Regions from separate parts of the Homo sapiens genome. Here region 2 is linked to region 1. The links come from fine-mapping of genetic effects on plasma protein levels. Region 1 holds a variant in brackets. A gene starts in the other region. All regions are shown on their reverse strands.

What was found. PIP is the chance, under the fine-mapping model, that this variant and not a neighbour inherited with it causes the effect. Protein levels are from antibody-based Olink assays in UK Biobank. Linkage for the fine-mapping came from a reference panel and not from the study's own genotypes, which makes the PIPs less certain.
Region 2: it holds the start of TG, and the variant in region 1 is fine-mapped to the plasma level of the TG protein (UK Biobank, PIP above 0.99).

Annotation. Positions count from the first base shown.
Region 1 is chr6:148,195,949-148,204,472 of GRCh38, reverse strand. It overlaps a transcript of SASH1 not described here. Among named protein-coding and RNA genes, the nearest start is that of SASH1, 140 kb to the left of the region's middle. The variant G/A (reference allele first, on the strand shown) is at 4,317.
Region 2 is chr8:132,863,143-132,871,142 of GRCh38, reverse strand. TG (thyroglobulin) reads right to left here and starts at 4,185. Exons shown (of 48, transcript NM_003235.5): 1 at 4,076-4,185; 2 at 2,920-3,028; 3 at 1,317-1,414. The coding sequence starts at 4,142.

The sequences.
Region 1 (8,524 bases):
AGATCTGCCTGTCTTGGCCTCCCAAAGTGCTGGGATTACAGATGTGAGCCACTGCACCCAGCCAAGAATTTTATCTTTCAAAAACCTCCAACTTTTGGGGGAGACTCAGAATGACTATGCAATGAAAAAAGTCTTGCAGATAATTCTCCCCTGTGAAATTGGTCTCTTTTGTACTGTCGATTGTGGTGGTTTCTATACAGTAGCATCCAGCACCTATTCCGCAAACCACTTCCTTCTTAAACCTCAAGGGTTTCTGCAAACCGCATTCAAATGATCTGTAGAAAGCGTTACCCTACACTTTCCATTACATCAGAGCCTTGCCGAGCGGCCCGAGAGGGATTCATCAACTGCTGCTGTGTCCCCATGTGTCTGATTAGCCACAAACACATAATGAATGTGGTTCAGCAGTGTAGGAAGCCGCAGTGGAGAACTGCAGCAAAAATTCCCGGCAATTTTTCTGGCAGCTGTCATCAGTCAACAAAACCCAAACTGACACCTTCAGTTGCCAACAGTTTTGGGTAAAACACATGCATGTTCCCAAGGTACAAGGGCCACAGGTTGAGAGTAAGGTTAAACGATAGAGTTTCTCTACTGGATGGAATGGAAGAAGATAGCAAAGTGAGCTTTTGTGATATTAATAAAGAACCTAATGGATTAATGGAAGGGACTGCTATGTAGGTTTCTGGTGAGTAACCGGTGATGCTGTGAAAGCTACGTGTGGCATCCAATAGTTAGCCCATTTTTACTTCAAGAAAACTCATCCTCGTGCTCTGCAGCAGCTGCTACTGTTTGGATTATGAATAGTTATACGCCAGATGGTGTGGCAGAAAGGACTCACACATATTTTCACATGGACAAATATTATTATTCCAAAACATAAACACGTTAATATAAGTGTTTTTTCTCCTGGGAGAAATCCAGCCCCTGATCTCAGTTATAAGAAAATGACTCAGTCTGTATATGCAAAAATTACCTGCCAAGGTTATTATTGGAAGAAACCCACACCACAGCGTTCCCCAAGTTTTCCTTTCCTTATTTGTAGTCAGCTGCATTTAATGTGATAAAGGAGAAACAGAAAGGAAGGGAGGGAGAGAAGACGGGAGGATGGAAAAGAAGGAAGAGGAAGAGAGTGAATGAAGACACGAGGTAAGGAAGGGGAAAATCACTGTCCCTCCACCCCAGAATTCTCATAATGGTGACAGCAGTGTGTTGGCCTGGGAATTATAATGCCAAATACCTGGTGACCAAAACTAGAAGGCAAAGATGGAAAAGATGGAATCAGGCCATTTAGACACATCAGTGAAAGATTCTTCTGAAGCATACTTCCAGCTCTTTCTCTGATTTTATTTGGAATGTTTCAAGGACAAAGAGTCCATCACAGTCAAGTCAATATAGTTCTCATAACAATGTATCCAGATTTCCCATTTCTAAATTTTTCTTAATTTGGTCTTGTTACTTCTTGCTGTCATTTCAATTTTTCTATATTCTTTCTTTTCTGTTTTTTGTTTTTGTTTTTTTTTTGACACAGCCTTGCTCTGTTGCATAGGCTGGAGTGTAATGGCACAATCTCTGCTCACTGCAACCTCTGCCTACCGGGTTCAAGCGATTCTTGTGCCTCAGCCTCCTGAGTAGCTGAGATTACAGGCACATGCCACCATGCCTGCCTAGTTCTTGTATTTTTAGTAGAGACAGAATTTCGCCACGTTGGCCAGGCTGGTCTGGAACTCCTGACTCAGGTGATCTGCCTGCCTCGGCCTCCCAAAGTGCTGGGATTATAGGCATGAGCCACTGCTCCTCACCTTATATTCTTTCTTTCCCCAGAAATTCCTATAATAAGCTTTTCTTCACAAGAATCTTCCACTCTTGGTGCCAGACATTTTGTAATCAATCCTAAACCCTCCTTCTTTATCTCTCTTCCTGCTAAGCCTTGGTCATTGCCTTCCAAGACTTCTTGCCTAGTTTTCCAGCCTCCCGGCAGCCCTCCTGTCTCCTAGCAGGGTAGACCAGCCCACCAGGGCTCAGGGAGGGCAGACCTGGGGTGATGTGTGCAGGAGGAGATGGAAAGGATGAGTCCAGCTGCAGTCCTTGGATGTCTTTTCGCTATGTGGGCCCTGTGGGTCAGCTCTTTTAACGTGGAACCAGCGCTGTGCCCTACTGAGAAAGGCACACTAGGAAGTTCTGTCCTTGCAGGCAATGTTAGAGTTGGCTTCCATTGTAGAGTAGTTTTTAGTGGGTCCTCTCTTTTGGCATACAATTGCAGGTTTACTACCTACAAGCGAACAATTCACCTAGCATCCTGACTTTCATTCTTTGGAGTTCAAATAACAGATAATTAAAAAAAAAACTGAATCCAGCATTTGCCTATTGCTTGACCACCCTGCTGCATGTACACCCTTCAGCTCCAGGACCACATGTGGTCAGGCTGATAAGTATAAGTGGGTGACTCGGTGGGGGCTAAGAGATAATATGGACCGGGTGAACTGGTGGATATACACCTTCAATAGCATTCAAGCTAAAATGCCTCACAGCCTTGTGCATTCCCACTGGAGAACATCTGCAGGCTGTGTCCAGCCTCAGGGCCACAAGTACACAATCCCTGCTCAGCAACCCACCACCCTTTATGTTCAAGCACATCCCCATATCTTTTATTTTTGTGGCCTCCCCTGGCAGGACCCACTCCATCTGTTCTCCTTTATTCTCAGGCTGTTTGTCTCAATGTCACTTCCACTGGTCCTGGTTCAGATCCTTGGTATCACGAACACCCTCCAGGTCTTCGACAGGCCCCAGGAGCCTTCTGGGCACCCCAGAGCAGTCTCTTCTCTAAGGAAAGCATTCTGGATTACTGCAGCTGTTCCATGGGTGATACGGTTTTGAGCTCTAGGACAGCAATTCTCAAAGTGTGCCCCGAGATCAGCAGTATCGGCATTGCCTGGCAACTTAGAAAAATGCAAATTTGGGGGTCCCACCCTAGGCCACTGAATCAGAAACTCTGGGGGGAGATGCACAGTGGTGGGCCCAGCAATCTGGGTTTTAATCGGCCTTCCAGGAGATTCCACTGCAGGGACAAGCTTGAGAATCACTGCTCTATTCAGTTGGTCCCACCCCGGATGGCAATGTACTTTGGTTTGCCTGTATCCCTCTTAAATTTCACTCCCTAAAACTAAAACTTAACCCATTTAGAGGAACACAGGGGCATTATGCAGACAAAATTAGATAATACCTAGCACAGTTTCTAGCACATGCTAAATTTGCCATACATGTTAATTATTATGATCGTGTCATCATTAATATTATTACGTCAGTGTGGTCCAAGGTCAAATGACCATTTTATGTACAGTAACCTTCTACTATCACTCTAAGAGTCAAATATCTCTATGGTGTTTTTATCTCTCATTTACAGCTCACATATTTACGTGGTAGATGGAAATGTAGACTCTATATTGAATACAACAGCATAAGTGATAGGGCTGAAACTTCCTCACCAGTGGAGAGGAAGTGATCTTGTCACATCAGCCAAAAGTTCTAAGAGCTTGAGGAGGAGGAAGAAAGTTTCCCCAGAATAAAAGAAAGCAGTCACAGAGGTATAATTTCTTTGAGGAGGACACGGGTGGAGTAGTGAAAGGAAAGATCAAAAATTAATTTTAAAGCTTCCCTATATTTCAAAGAACACAGAGAATCTCTCTTCTATGTCTGTCCTTCAATTGTAAATGCCCTGTAAAATCTCCATCCTTCTTCCACTTTAGACAAAAGGCTATTTTGAGTGTTACTATGCAAAAAGTAGAAATGCCAGCCTGTGCGAGGTCTGTTCAAATTCACTCAGTAAAGAATTCTTTCATTAAAATAACTACTAAAGGAGAGCCAAGAGGTTGACCTTCACATTGTTCAAGAGCCACACCAATCACCTCGCCTTGGCACGCACTTGGATCTCTTGCCAGGATTTCAGCAGGTGTTTTCTGAATTGCATCCAGAATCACACTGGACAGAAACACAGCAGAGGTCGCCGAAGCCACATCAATAATGATAAGCAGATGATCGCGGCCCCCTCCCGCTCGCTCTGTGAGCTGCAGAGATCACAGCACTGCTGTCTGTGGGAGGCAGCGCAGCCTTGAGCTTCTAGCCAACAACCAATGTCATTTTAACATATTCAAGACAGACTAGCTGAACCAATGTTTCAGGCTAGAGTTCTAAAGACACAAAATGAGGTTAGGAGAGGAAAGTGAACAGGAAAATATACATGAATATTTTTTATTAGTAACTTTCATTTAGAAATTTGGGACATCTTCAATACAAATGCTTAAAATGCTGTAGTCACAACT[G/A]CTATATTTGCAAGTCCACTTTTTTATTTTTTAACCCAACAAAGTATAATCAAAGGAAAAAGCTAATTCTGAAGTATGTTCCGTCTTGGCATTGTAAGCAGCCAGTGCAATCACTTAAAATACAATTCCATCAAGGGTCGCAGATGAGAAATACTACTATTCCGGGTTTTCTCAGATTCTGGCTCTCAGGGTGACCTATTCAATATCCCTCAGTTGATATTCAGAATATCAGTTTTGACTGATGAGCATCTTCACACATGCTGGTCTTTGCCTTTCTCCAGGTTGCCTTCTCTTTTCTTTCCTTTCCTTTCCTTTTCTTTTCTTTCTTTCCTCCTTCTCTCTCTCTTTTTCTTTCTCTCTCTCTCTCCTTCCTTCCTTCCTTTCTTTTTCTTCCTTTTTCTCTCTTTCTTTCTCCTCTCTCTCTCACTCTCCCTTCCTTTCTTTCTCTTTTCTTTTTCCCAAGACAAAGTCTTGCTCTGTCACCCAGGCTGGAGTGCAGTGGTATGCTCAGAGTTCATCACAGCTCTAACTCCCGGACTGAAGCAGTCCTCCTGCCTCCGCCTGCCGAATAGCTGGAATTACAGGTGTGCACCATCACATCTAGTTAATTTTTAAACTTTTTATAGAGATGGGGTCTCACTATATTGCTCAGGCTGGTTTCAAACTCCTGGCCCCAATTACCAACCTTTTGGATCCTGTATTTGAGAAACAACTACAGTCCTTAAAAGGAGAGAAAAGGGAGTGAGGCCTTATAGCCAAGCTCAGTTTTTTTTTTTTTTTTCTTGAGACGGAGTCTTGCACTGTTGCCCAGGCTGGAGTGCAATGGCAAGATTTCAACTCACTGCAACCTCTGCCTCTCGGGTTCAAGTGATTCTCCTGCTCAGCCTCCTGAGTAGCTGGGCACCCACCACCATACTCAGTTAATTTTTGTATTTTTAGTAGAGACAGTGTTTTGCCATGTTGGCCAAGCTGGTCTCGAACTCCTGACCTCAGGTGATCCGCCTGCCTTGGCCTCTCAAAGTGCTGGGATTACAGGTGTGAGCCACCACGACTGGCCAGCAAAGCTCAGTTCTCATCCCCGTACTGATATCAGCCTCTTGGGAAATACTGAAAAAGTCATTTAACTTCTCTTTGCCTCAATCTCCCTTCTTTGTAAAATGAGGGATTAGTTAAATCAGGGGTCACAGCTGAAATATTCACAGGCCCCGATAAGTACTCAAAAGGTAGGTAAGGAGGAGAATACTTGCCCTGTCTACAGGGGACAGCTATACTCAGCACTAGCTGATAATTGTCATCTTTTGATTCTGTTTCAAACAAAACAAAACAAAACAAAACTGTCCCTGGATTATTATGTGAAAATGTCTTAATTTTAAATATTTGCTAAAAATGTAAATAAAACAACAACAATTATAAAAACCATATGTAGGTCAAACAGAACATGTTGATGATGCTTTAGAGTTCTTGCCTTCTGTGATTCAAAATTTCTCCTGAAACCTGTCTAAGACCTGTCAGTCTAAACATACAACATCTTGATTTTCATCATTTGTGTTCCAGTTGTGGTGGCTTGCTTCCCCTTTCAAAACATCAGATGGACTGGATACCTCTTTTTCCTGTATGTAGCACACACTTTATTTATGTCAAATATAACTATGTACATGCCTAGAAAAGTTAATCATCTTGACCTGAAGTATGCTGCCAAGTAGCCAAATATCAGTGGGCGGCTACCTCAATATCAATAAAGACAGAAGGGAGAGATGGGAGAAGCCCACAAACTAGAAATAAAACTAAGTCAGGATATTAGTCCATTTTCACACTGCTAGAAAGAAATATTCAAGACTGGATCATTTATAAAGGAAAGAAGTTTAATTGACTCACAGTTTCACATGGCTGGGGAGAACTCAGGAAACTTACAATCATGGCGGAAGGCAAAGGAGAGGCAAGGACCTTCTTCACATGGCAACAAGAGAGGGGAGTGAGTGAAGGGGAAGAATGCCCTATAAAACCATCAGACAGGCACGGCAGCTCATGCCTGTGATTGCAGCACTTTGGGAGGCTGAGGTGGGCCAATCACTTGAGGTTAGGAGTGTGAGACCAGCTTGGCCAACTTGGTGAAGCCCTGTTTCTACTAAAAATACAACAATGAGCCAGGCGTGGTGTTGGGCAGCTATAATTCCAGCTACTCTGGATGCTGAGGCAGGAGACTCACTAGAACATGGGAGGCGGAGGTTGCAGTGAGCCGAGATAGCACCACTGCACTCCAGCCTGGGTGACAGAGCCAGACTCCATCTCAAAACAAAACAAAAACAAAACCCACCAGATCTTGTGAGAACTCACTCATTATCAGGGGAACAGCATGAGGAAAACCACCCTATGATCCAATCACCTACCTCCCTCGATACATGGGGATTACAATTAGAGATAAGACTCAGGTGGGGACACAGAGCCAAACCATATTGGTCAGTGAGGAAGAAAGAGGAAAAATGTTTCCTGTTCATCAAACAGTAGCTGAGGAACAGATCCTAGGAAAATGACCCTCAGGAGCATGAGTCCAGCTGTGAGGAAGGAGAAGCTTTGAGGGAGCAGAATGCTCCAGGTGGCAGGAGGGTGGCCTGCAAGAGAAATTTTGGCCTGAACTCTCAGGATGGGGACTGATACCTGGAGAATTTTCTAGAAAGGACTTGGTTAACTCAAGGGACAGGGAGGGAAGTATGAGACAAGTTTGCTAGTCTTAGGAATAAATCTATGGAAAATAATTAGACTTCTCTCTTATCCTGAGCAAAAATAGACTGTTGTCTGCAGAAGATATCCATTAGGTGCTGACTTGATGTAGTTTGTATCCTACATAATCCTGTCAGCTGACTGGTGTTTCATGTTTTTCCTTAAAGATATGTTTTTCTCCTTACTCCACTTGTACCACACTGGTCTGGGACCACTGCCATCTCATGTGTAGGTCCTGTAACAATAGCTTTCTTACCAGCCTCTAGAATCTTCAGAATCCAATCTACCTTGCCAGACTCATTTTCCCTAAATGCTGCCTTTATCAAGCCATTCTACTGTTCTGACTCCTTCCACGACTCCCATGTCCTACCCAGTCTAAGATCCTCTGTTTGGTCTTCAAGACTCTCCAGGATCTGCTCCATTCTCTATCTTTCCCCAGTCCCTCACATCCATTTCCTGTTCAATCACTCAGCAGTATCCTGTCACCAGAGGCGTTTCTGCCTCCCAGCATTTACTCGACACCATCATCTCCTTCATCTGGATGCCTATCCCTCTCCTTTCCAAATTCTATCCATCAATTTCCATCATGAAACCTTCTTTGACTCTTCTGGGCCTCACAGACTTCCCTGACTTCAGACTTGCTATTCCACTTAATTTCTGAACCATGCCGTCTGCCACTCAATTATATATTATTCTGTTCTCTAATTGTTTCATGGATGTTTGTCTTATCTCACAATTATATTTTGACCTTCCTGAGTCAAGATCACGTCTTCTTCCTCTGTATTCTCCATAGAAACAGCGGATTTAGTCATAGAGGCTGGGCTCGATGAGCACTTGCCTGATGCTTCAATGAGGCAGGTATTCAGATGAGCTCACTGGGAGAAAGAGGATGGTGGCAAAGAAAGATGGCTGGGGTCTCTTGGGAGGAGATGATCAGACAGGACTATGCAGAGAGTTACCACTGTCCACTTTCCCCAAATAATCATGCATGGCCATCATGCCCTCTGCTACCTGCACTTTCATATATGGTTCGTGCTTGTTGAAGCTGTGCTAGGTTGAATTGTTTCACTGGGTTGTATGCAAGGGGAGACCTAATCTACCAACTGTCCTGGACCAGCACATAGCCTTGAGACTTAAAGCTGCACTTGGAGGCAAGCTTCTGAATTTGAGCTCCCAGGGGTTACTATTATCCTCTTTGAGAGAAGCATGATCCAGTTATGTCTGACATGAAAGTGAACTTCTAAGTGACTCCAATATTCTGCAAGAGTGAAGACATTCAAGAACTCAGATGCACTAAGAGCAAAAAATGATGAGAGAACTCTTGATGGAAGAACCACTCTGATCCTCCTGGTGGAGAAGGCTGAGAGACAATGTCCAACATTCTGTAGGAAATCACCAGAGCCTTAGATTTCTCACTCCCAGCCCACTCATTAACCAGAGAGCACCAAGCCTGTTATTAAATCTCTATGTCTCACAATCTACACAGTTCA
Region 2 (8,000 bases), not on the chromosome of region 1:
TGCCACATCAGTCAGGTACCCCAGAGCACGGTCCTGTGGAGGGGAGATGGGATCAGAGTGCAGGCCTGGCATTAACAGAGCTTTTCTGAGTCCAGTTTTCTCCACGGGCTCTCTGTGTGATCCTGGGGAAGCTGCTTCACCACTCTGCTTGTAGGCTAGTGACATTAACTGCTACAGTTTCAGCATTTGTCCCCTCCAAATCTCATGTTGAAATCTGATCCCCAATGTGGGAGGTGTTTGAGTCCTGGAAGTGGATCCCTTATGAAGAGATGAATGCCTTCCCTCGGAGTGAGTGAGTTCCAGCTCTATTAGTGTCCATAAGAGCTGAATGTTAAAAAGAGCCTGGCACCTCCACCTTCTATCTCTCTAGCTTTCTCTCTCACATGATCTCTGCACAGATGGTTCCTCTTCCCCTTGTACCATGAGTGGAAGCAGCCTGAGGTCCTCAGCAGCAGCAGAAGCTAGTGGCATGCTTCGGCACAGCCTGCAGAGCTGTGAGCCAAACACATCTCTTTTCTTTATAAATTATCTAGCCGCAGGCATTTCTTTATAACAACACAAATGGACTGAGACATTAGCAATGATCACCCCTATTGAATACCTACTATGTGCCTAGTGTTTACACGTGTTCTAAATCCTCACATCATACAAGGCAGATGCTATATTCATGTTACAGATGAGGACCCATAGCTCAGTGAGGATGCCTGACTCAGCCAAGCTCACACAGCAGGAGAGTATGGGGCCAGCGTGCCCCCATGACAACCATACTAGATGCATAAAACCAGTACCCCAAACAGAGCTTTTAATCCGTCAAAGGATAGTTTTGGTTTTAGGCTCAATTTCCTCATTTTGAGGTGGTTGGCTTAAGTTAACCATTGTTTTAGAGTTATGACATGCTTTAAATAGGGACTGTGTTTCTTTGATTACTCACTATAATAATTATCTTAACTGGATAGCTTTGACCCAAGTCTTAAATTTTAGAAACTCCTCACACCACGGGTGAGAAGGCACTCATATTTTTCTGGTCACTTTCTGATTTCAGGAGATGTTGATGTCTGTTCACCATTGTCTTCTCAGCATGTGGCTCATGGGAGGAACTGGGTAGATATTTATTGAACAAATGACTGGACTTTCACAGTGGCCCTGCAGGAAATAGGGCCTTCCATGGCTTGCAGGGATGATTCTTATTCACAGAGGAGAAGCCAGCAGCCCAGAGGGAGGACCTGCTCAGTCACCCACCCAAACCCAGTGCTCATTCCTGGAAGTGAGTTGTCCTAGCAGGGTCCCTCCAAGGGACGTCCCCCACTCCCACTTACAAGCCACAGGCCGTCCTGGCTGCCTGCTGCCCAGCACTTCACTGCCGTTGGCACCCACACACCAGCAGGAGCGGCCGTCGTTCTGGCACTGGACAGTCCTGAGGAGGAGACACAGACCAGGTGACCCTGGGATGGGCCCCCAAAGCCACATGCCGGCTCCCACTCAGGCTACTTTTCTTCTTCATTTCCATTCTTGCAAGTTTTGGTTCGTTTAAATTAGGGAGAGAGTGGAGTGGAGAAGGGTGGCTGACCTGGGAAAGGAAAGGCCCCACTTTTCCTGCCTGGCTAGCACCTGCTCTGCCTCCTGCCCCAGCCATTCATTCACCACCTGTCCAGCCTGCCAGCCCCAAAACAAGTGACCCACCCTGGAGTGCAGGGCTTCAGCCACATCCACCAAGTGTCCTCAGGCATTATGAGGCTGCAGAGGGTAAAGGCAGTGCCCACATTGTATGGATAGGGAGTGGGGGCTTGGGGGTGGGATGTTAGTGGGATCAGGGGCCAGCAGGGTATATTGGGAAGCACATGGGTGGGGTCAGGCCAGGCCATAGAGTTGACTCCCCAGAAATGATGACTGAACTGAGACCTGCAGGATGGTCAGAGGTATAAGAAGGTAAAAGATATTCCAGGTAAAGGGAACAGCATATGCAAAGCCTCCTGAAGAGAGGCCAGGTTTGAAACTGCAAGAGGCCAGAACAAGAGAGTTGGGAATGGGAATATAAATAAGGCTGGTGAAAGTGAGACTTCCTCCTTAACTCCTTCCTTGCTGTTCCAGAATTCCCAGTGATCTAAGCAGGGACTGCTCTAGCAGCATCTCTGCACACTCGTGGGAGGTTAGGCACATTAAGAGTGTACATAAGATAGCAGCAGGGAGGGAGGTTTCACAGACATTTCCCAGAACGCAGTTATATAAATGGAGTTCCCCTGATTCAACATGACTGGAATAGCACAAGGAAATTTCAATGCATGCACATTGCAAAGGATTCCTGTCTATTCTGCAGGGAAGAATTGTCTAGATTATTACCACACTCTCCACAGAGAGGGTCTCAGGCCCCAAGTCTGCATTAGGGCAGCTGGAGAAACCCCTTTCAGAGAGCAGCTCAATGTGGAGACAGCGACCCAGAAGCCCAGAGGCAGCCTAGAGAGCTAGTCCGGGCAGGGTCGGTGGCAGCTAAGGACTAGGAAGTCAAGGCAGCCTCTGCTTCCACCACCCCAGCTTCTCAAGAGGATACTTGGAGGAGGGAGAGGTCCCAAAGCACAGATCATTTGACACTCTCCTCAACCTGCCCCACTCCCCACACGTGCCGTTTATTCAAGCCATCACAGAAAAAGTGATGGCAAGAAGAGAAGGGAGGGCAGTGGGAGGATGAAGCATGGATTGGGGTTCACTTGGTCAGATTGTCCAGTGTTGAACAGCTTGGGGAACTGAAAGGCAGGCACCTCCAAATGACAGTGGAACTGAAAGGCAGGCACCTCCAAATGACAGTGGCCAAGCCTCACATGCACAAAGGAGTTGCAGGGCAGAGCTCAGGAAGAGGGGGGAAGGCACAAGATGCTTTTTATGGCATCTTGGACCTTGAGAGTTCGCTGCTGACATAAGCCTTACTGGAAGCTGCCATCCTCTGCACACTGGGGCACGTAGTCTGCTTGCTTCAGAAAGGCCGTTTCCCTCTGCAGCTCACAGGGACGAAGGGGCTGGGCATCCACCTGGTACTCTAGGAAAAGAAAAGTGGTTCATCAAAGAAGAGTGTGGACTGGGCTGCCAGGACAGAGACGGGCTCTCATAAGCACAGATGCTTTTCCAGGGTCATCATCATTACCTATGACAGCCTATTTTAAAATTTGGCAGCTAAGCACACTTTCTTACAAGTATGACATTAGCTCATTTAATGTGCAACATTCTCCTAAGAGGTGACAGGCAATATATCCTTGTCACTCATGAGGCACCAAGTCTCAGGCAGCGAAAGTCGTCTGCCCAAAGTCACGTAACTGGCAAGTGAAGGATCCCAAAATCAACGCTGGGACTACACGTTCCCCGCCCGCCCCCACCCTGCCGCAATTCCCATGAGGCTATTTGGAGTAAGTTAGAGAACCGTAAGGAAGTTCTTCTTGAATCTATCAAGCCATGCCCTGCAGATGTAACATGTTCCAGATAAACATTGAAATACCAATTAATTAATAATGTACATGACTTATTTTTCCATTGAGAACTCTTGTAACACATAGGGTCCTACCCAGAAATCACAACCGCATCATGAGGTGTGTGTTATTTGTTTACTTTTTAAATGAAAAAAAAAAAAAAAAAACAGAAGCTTGGCACTTTGCCCGAAGTCATATGGGTAAGTGGCTGAGCCAAAGACAGAACTTAGGGCTATTTCACTTCATAGGTAGATTTCTTTTTCTACTGCTTCTAAAATACCTGTTATGGATGACACAGACTTTGGAATAGCTAAGGGGATAAAAACCCAAGGTCAATGCCAAAAGTTTGCCAAAATGGTGGGGTGAGGAGGACCTAGAATTGAATTAGGAAGATCAACCACATTTCCCATTTCTGCTCCATCAATCACTAGCTCTGTGACCTCAAGTAATTCAGTTCGGCTCTCTAAATCTGCCTCTTCATCTGAAAAAAAAAAAGCAAATCACTGACATGTGGGAATTTGTGAAGATTAAATTAGATCGCACCTGTTCGAAGGCCCAGGGCAGAGCCTGGCTGACACTGGAGCTCCCTCCCCACCGCCTGGCTCCATGGCCTCAGAACTTACCGAAGATATTGGCCGACACCCAGCAGATGGAGGCCAGCAGGGTGAAGATCTCCAGGACCAGGGCCATTTTCCTGGCCCTTCCTGGGAGGAAGGAGGAGAAACCACTGCTTGCCCTAGGTCCCCTGGCCAGGGAGCTTTTATAGAGCTGCCGTTGGCACTTTCCTTCCCACCCCCAGGTCCTCAGTGAGGCAGTGCCCCATCCTGTTTTCTCTGCTGGTCAAAAGGAGCTCCCTCCACCTGTGTCTACTCCTCCTGAGGGCACTCGTGTGGCCAGTGGAGCATGAGGATCTTGTCTAAACTGTGGGGGAACAGAACGGGGTGGGGTGACTTCAAAATCCTTTTTTATGGGTAAAGACCAAAGCTCTGTATCTTTGGAGGGAACAGGCTCAAGCCCACAGTGAGGGAAAAGCAATCCTTTGTTCTTTCCTTCCCCACCCTACCCTTTCTCCTTCTCCTTCCTCCTTCCTTCTTTCCTTTCTTCCTTTCTTTCTTCTTTCCTTCCTTTCTCCCTTCTATCCTTCTTTCCTTTCATTCTTCCTTCTTTCTTTCCTTCCTTCCCTCTTTCTTTTCTTTCTTCCTTCTTTCCTTCCTTCCTTCTTTTCTTTCTTCTATTCTTTCTCTAACAACCTCTTAGAGCTCCACAGTAGCAGGCACCTAATCTAGACAATGAGGATATGGCAGAGAACAAAACAGGCAAAATCGTGCCCTCATTAATATAGACTGTGAAAACTTTGGTGAGGGAAGCAAAATACACACACACTCATATTCATATTTCTATTACTTTCCTCTCTTTCCTAGGACCTCAGACTTTGTCAACCAAAAGATAGCAGGAACTGTGTATTCCACAGAAAGCCTGTATGTCCATTTGGTTTCTCCTGGCAAACATGGCTTCCTTCCTTCAGTCCTGTTCCTGTGAGACCTGGAAAAACTCACCTCATCTCCCTGAGCCCCAGCCTCCTTCTCTGGAAAGCAAAGTTAAAAGGAGAATAATAATATGTCCCTATTTGTTAAGGTAGTTGTAAGAGAATAGACATTGAAGAGCACATGCTTATTAGACACTAGCAGTTATTATTATTATTATTGATTTTCTTATTTTGCAAAAGCATCATGCCAGGGAATGGCAAGTATTCAGAAGACCAATCCAGCCAGGTAAGGAGCTAGTGACAGATAGGGTCAGGAACTGGCAGGTAATGAGGGCAGGTTGCTGAGCCTGGCACCTGAGGAGAGATGGAGGGACCTGTGAGAATCTGGAGGATATGGTCCCGGGTAGAGTGAAGGGCAGGAGGACAAGCTGGAAAGTGGAAGAGACTCCAAACCCTGGGGAAAATAAAGGGGCCGATATAGCTGCCGTGCCGTAGACTGTACTACCTTCCACAAATAGGGTTGCTATGAATATTAAATGTGTTAAAATATGCAAAGTGCTTAAAACAGTATTTGACACATAATAAGTATCCAGTGTTAGCTACTGTACTAGTCTGCTATGGGTGTCATCACAAACTATCACAGACTGGGTGGCTTAAGTAACAGAAATTTATTTTCTCATAGTTCTGAAGGCTGGAAATCCAAGATCAAAGTGTCAGCACTGTTGGTTTCTTTGGAGACTCCTCTCCTGGGCTTGCAGATGGCCATCTCCTCCCTGTATCCTCACTTGGTCTTCCCTGTGTGTGTTTGTGTCTTAATATTTATTTCTTTTAAGTACACCAGTCATATTGGATTAGAGCCCATCCTTGTGACCTCATTGTGCACTTAATTACCTCTTTAAAGACCCTACCTTCAAATGCGGTCACATTCTGAGGTCCTGGTTTTAGGACTTCAGCATATGGATTTGGGGGGAGAACACAATTCAGTCCATAACAGCTACTGTCATCATTGTTGGGTTCCTGATATAAACTAGAGAAAGTAAAACACAACAGTCATTTGAAGTGTCAGGGTATGGGATTAAAAACAGGGGAGAACCCGTGCTCTGCCCGTCCTTCTTGGGGACCACACATGCCTGGAACTCCCACATCTCTCTCTAGCTCAGTCTCCAGCCAGACTTTTTTGAGCTCAGATCCACTCTGCCTGGACACCCTACAGGTATTTCAAATTCAACATATCCCAACCTGAACTCCTCAACCTTTCTCCTGACATCACCCCATTGGCTGTCTCTGTGATAGTAAATCCGAGCCCCATCCTAGGCTTCTCCCCTCAAGTCTTACCAGCCTCCAGGTCCTACCAGGCTGCTGCTCATTTCTACTTCCTTGGTCCTCCCCTCCTCTGCATCCTCACTCTTCCTGCCTCCGTCACATCCCTACAGCTCAGAACGAGCCAGCCAGAACAGCCTGCTGTACTGCTCCTCACCAGGGCTTCCCCACCAGCTGCAGGAACAGTCCTCTAAAATATGGCCATCCATGTCACTTTGTAGATTCTACAAAAAGAGTGTTTGGATCCTGGTGAATCAAAACACTGTTTCCATTCTGTGATATTAAACAGCACATCACAAGGCTGTTTTCACGGGTGGGGATGGAGACTCAGCCAACAGATGCTCAGGAGGTGCCGTGGCAGGAAGATCAATTCACCCTGGGGAGTGGGAGGACAACTTGGATTAAGACCTAGATGTTAGGTAAAGGTGAGCTGGGGAGTGTATTGGCATTTACTGGAAAAGGCAATACAAGAGGAAGAACTCACCTGCCTGACTCCCTGCTACCTCATTACATAGGCCAAGTTCACCCCAGGCTATGGAGAGCTGGCAGCATCCTTCTCTCTACAGCAATATAATAAGCACAGCATTGTGCAGCCCCTGGTCATTTCTCCATTTCTACATGTTCTAAAGCAGAAAAGTCTTAGAAAAAATTGAATGTGGTTAAAGATTTACCATAAACCTCACTCACCACTCTTCCCATTGCCCTAAAATGCATGCATAAAGCTTGCACAGGTTGGCCTGTGTGCTGAATCATTCTTGCTGGCCTGGCCCCTGAGAAGCAACCCACAGACCCATGCCAGAAGTGTCTCTGCTTCACTGGGTTTGGTGCTTTAGGAACTCTGGGCTCAGGGTTCATGAAGCAGGCCAAGATATCACTGGAATGAGGAGTACTATGAGAGAGGAATGGCAGGTCTGTGAGCTGACTCCACGTCAGACCCCACCTGGAGAAGCAGCAAGGTGTTAGGAGCCTGTGGGGGAGCACCCAGTAGTCCGAAATGCAGAGGCCGCCTTCAAAATCCATGCAAAGAGCTTCCCTCCATACGCAATAGCAGAGGTGCTTCTCTCCACTCAAGCAACAAAGCAGAAAGCTTCAAGAGAATCGAGGCAATGTGTCACTTCCACCACCATGAAACCCTCTTTCTCATAATGACTCAGCTACTGGTCCCTACTTTTACCTCTTCTCCACTGAGCTCTGAGAACAAACAGGCTTCCACAGCGACTCCACATGGCAATGTCCTAATCTTTCTTCACCAACTTGCTCCTTGCTCAGGCCTCCATCACTCTGGCAGGCTCTTCATCGCTGGCCCTGCCACCTCTCCCACTCTTCTTGGCCCAAAATACAACTGCACAACCTTCTCTTTCATCTCCTTCATTTTTTAATACTAAGGTGCTTTATATAATAGGTGCTTACTGAAAATTTAGGGGGAGATGGACAGTAATAGCAATATAGAGGAGGAAATGGCTTCAAATGGATCATCAGACACCACTGTTTCTGACATCCATCCATCAGCTGTCATGCACCACAGGAAATTGCTTCCCAGTCATCTCTCCTTTAGTCCAGCCTGCCACCATATTGCTGGATCCCTGCTACCACTTATGGACAGCTTCTCCCCATCCTCCAAATACCTAGGGACACAAAGCCACAACCCGTCTTCTCCTAGGTTCCTAGGGCAATAATAAACATTTCTGGTTCTTGATTTCTCATCCCAGAAAGACAGAGTGAAAAATACACTTTTCCCTGTA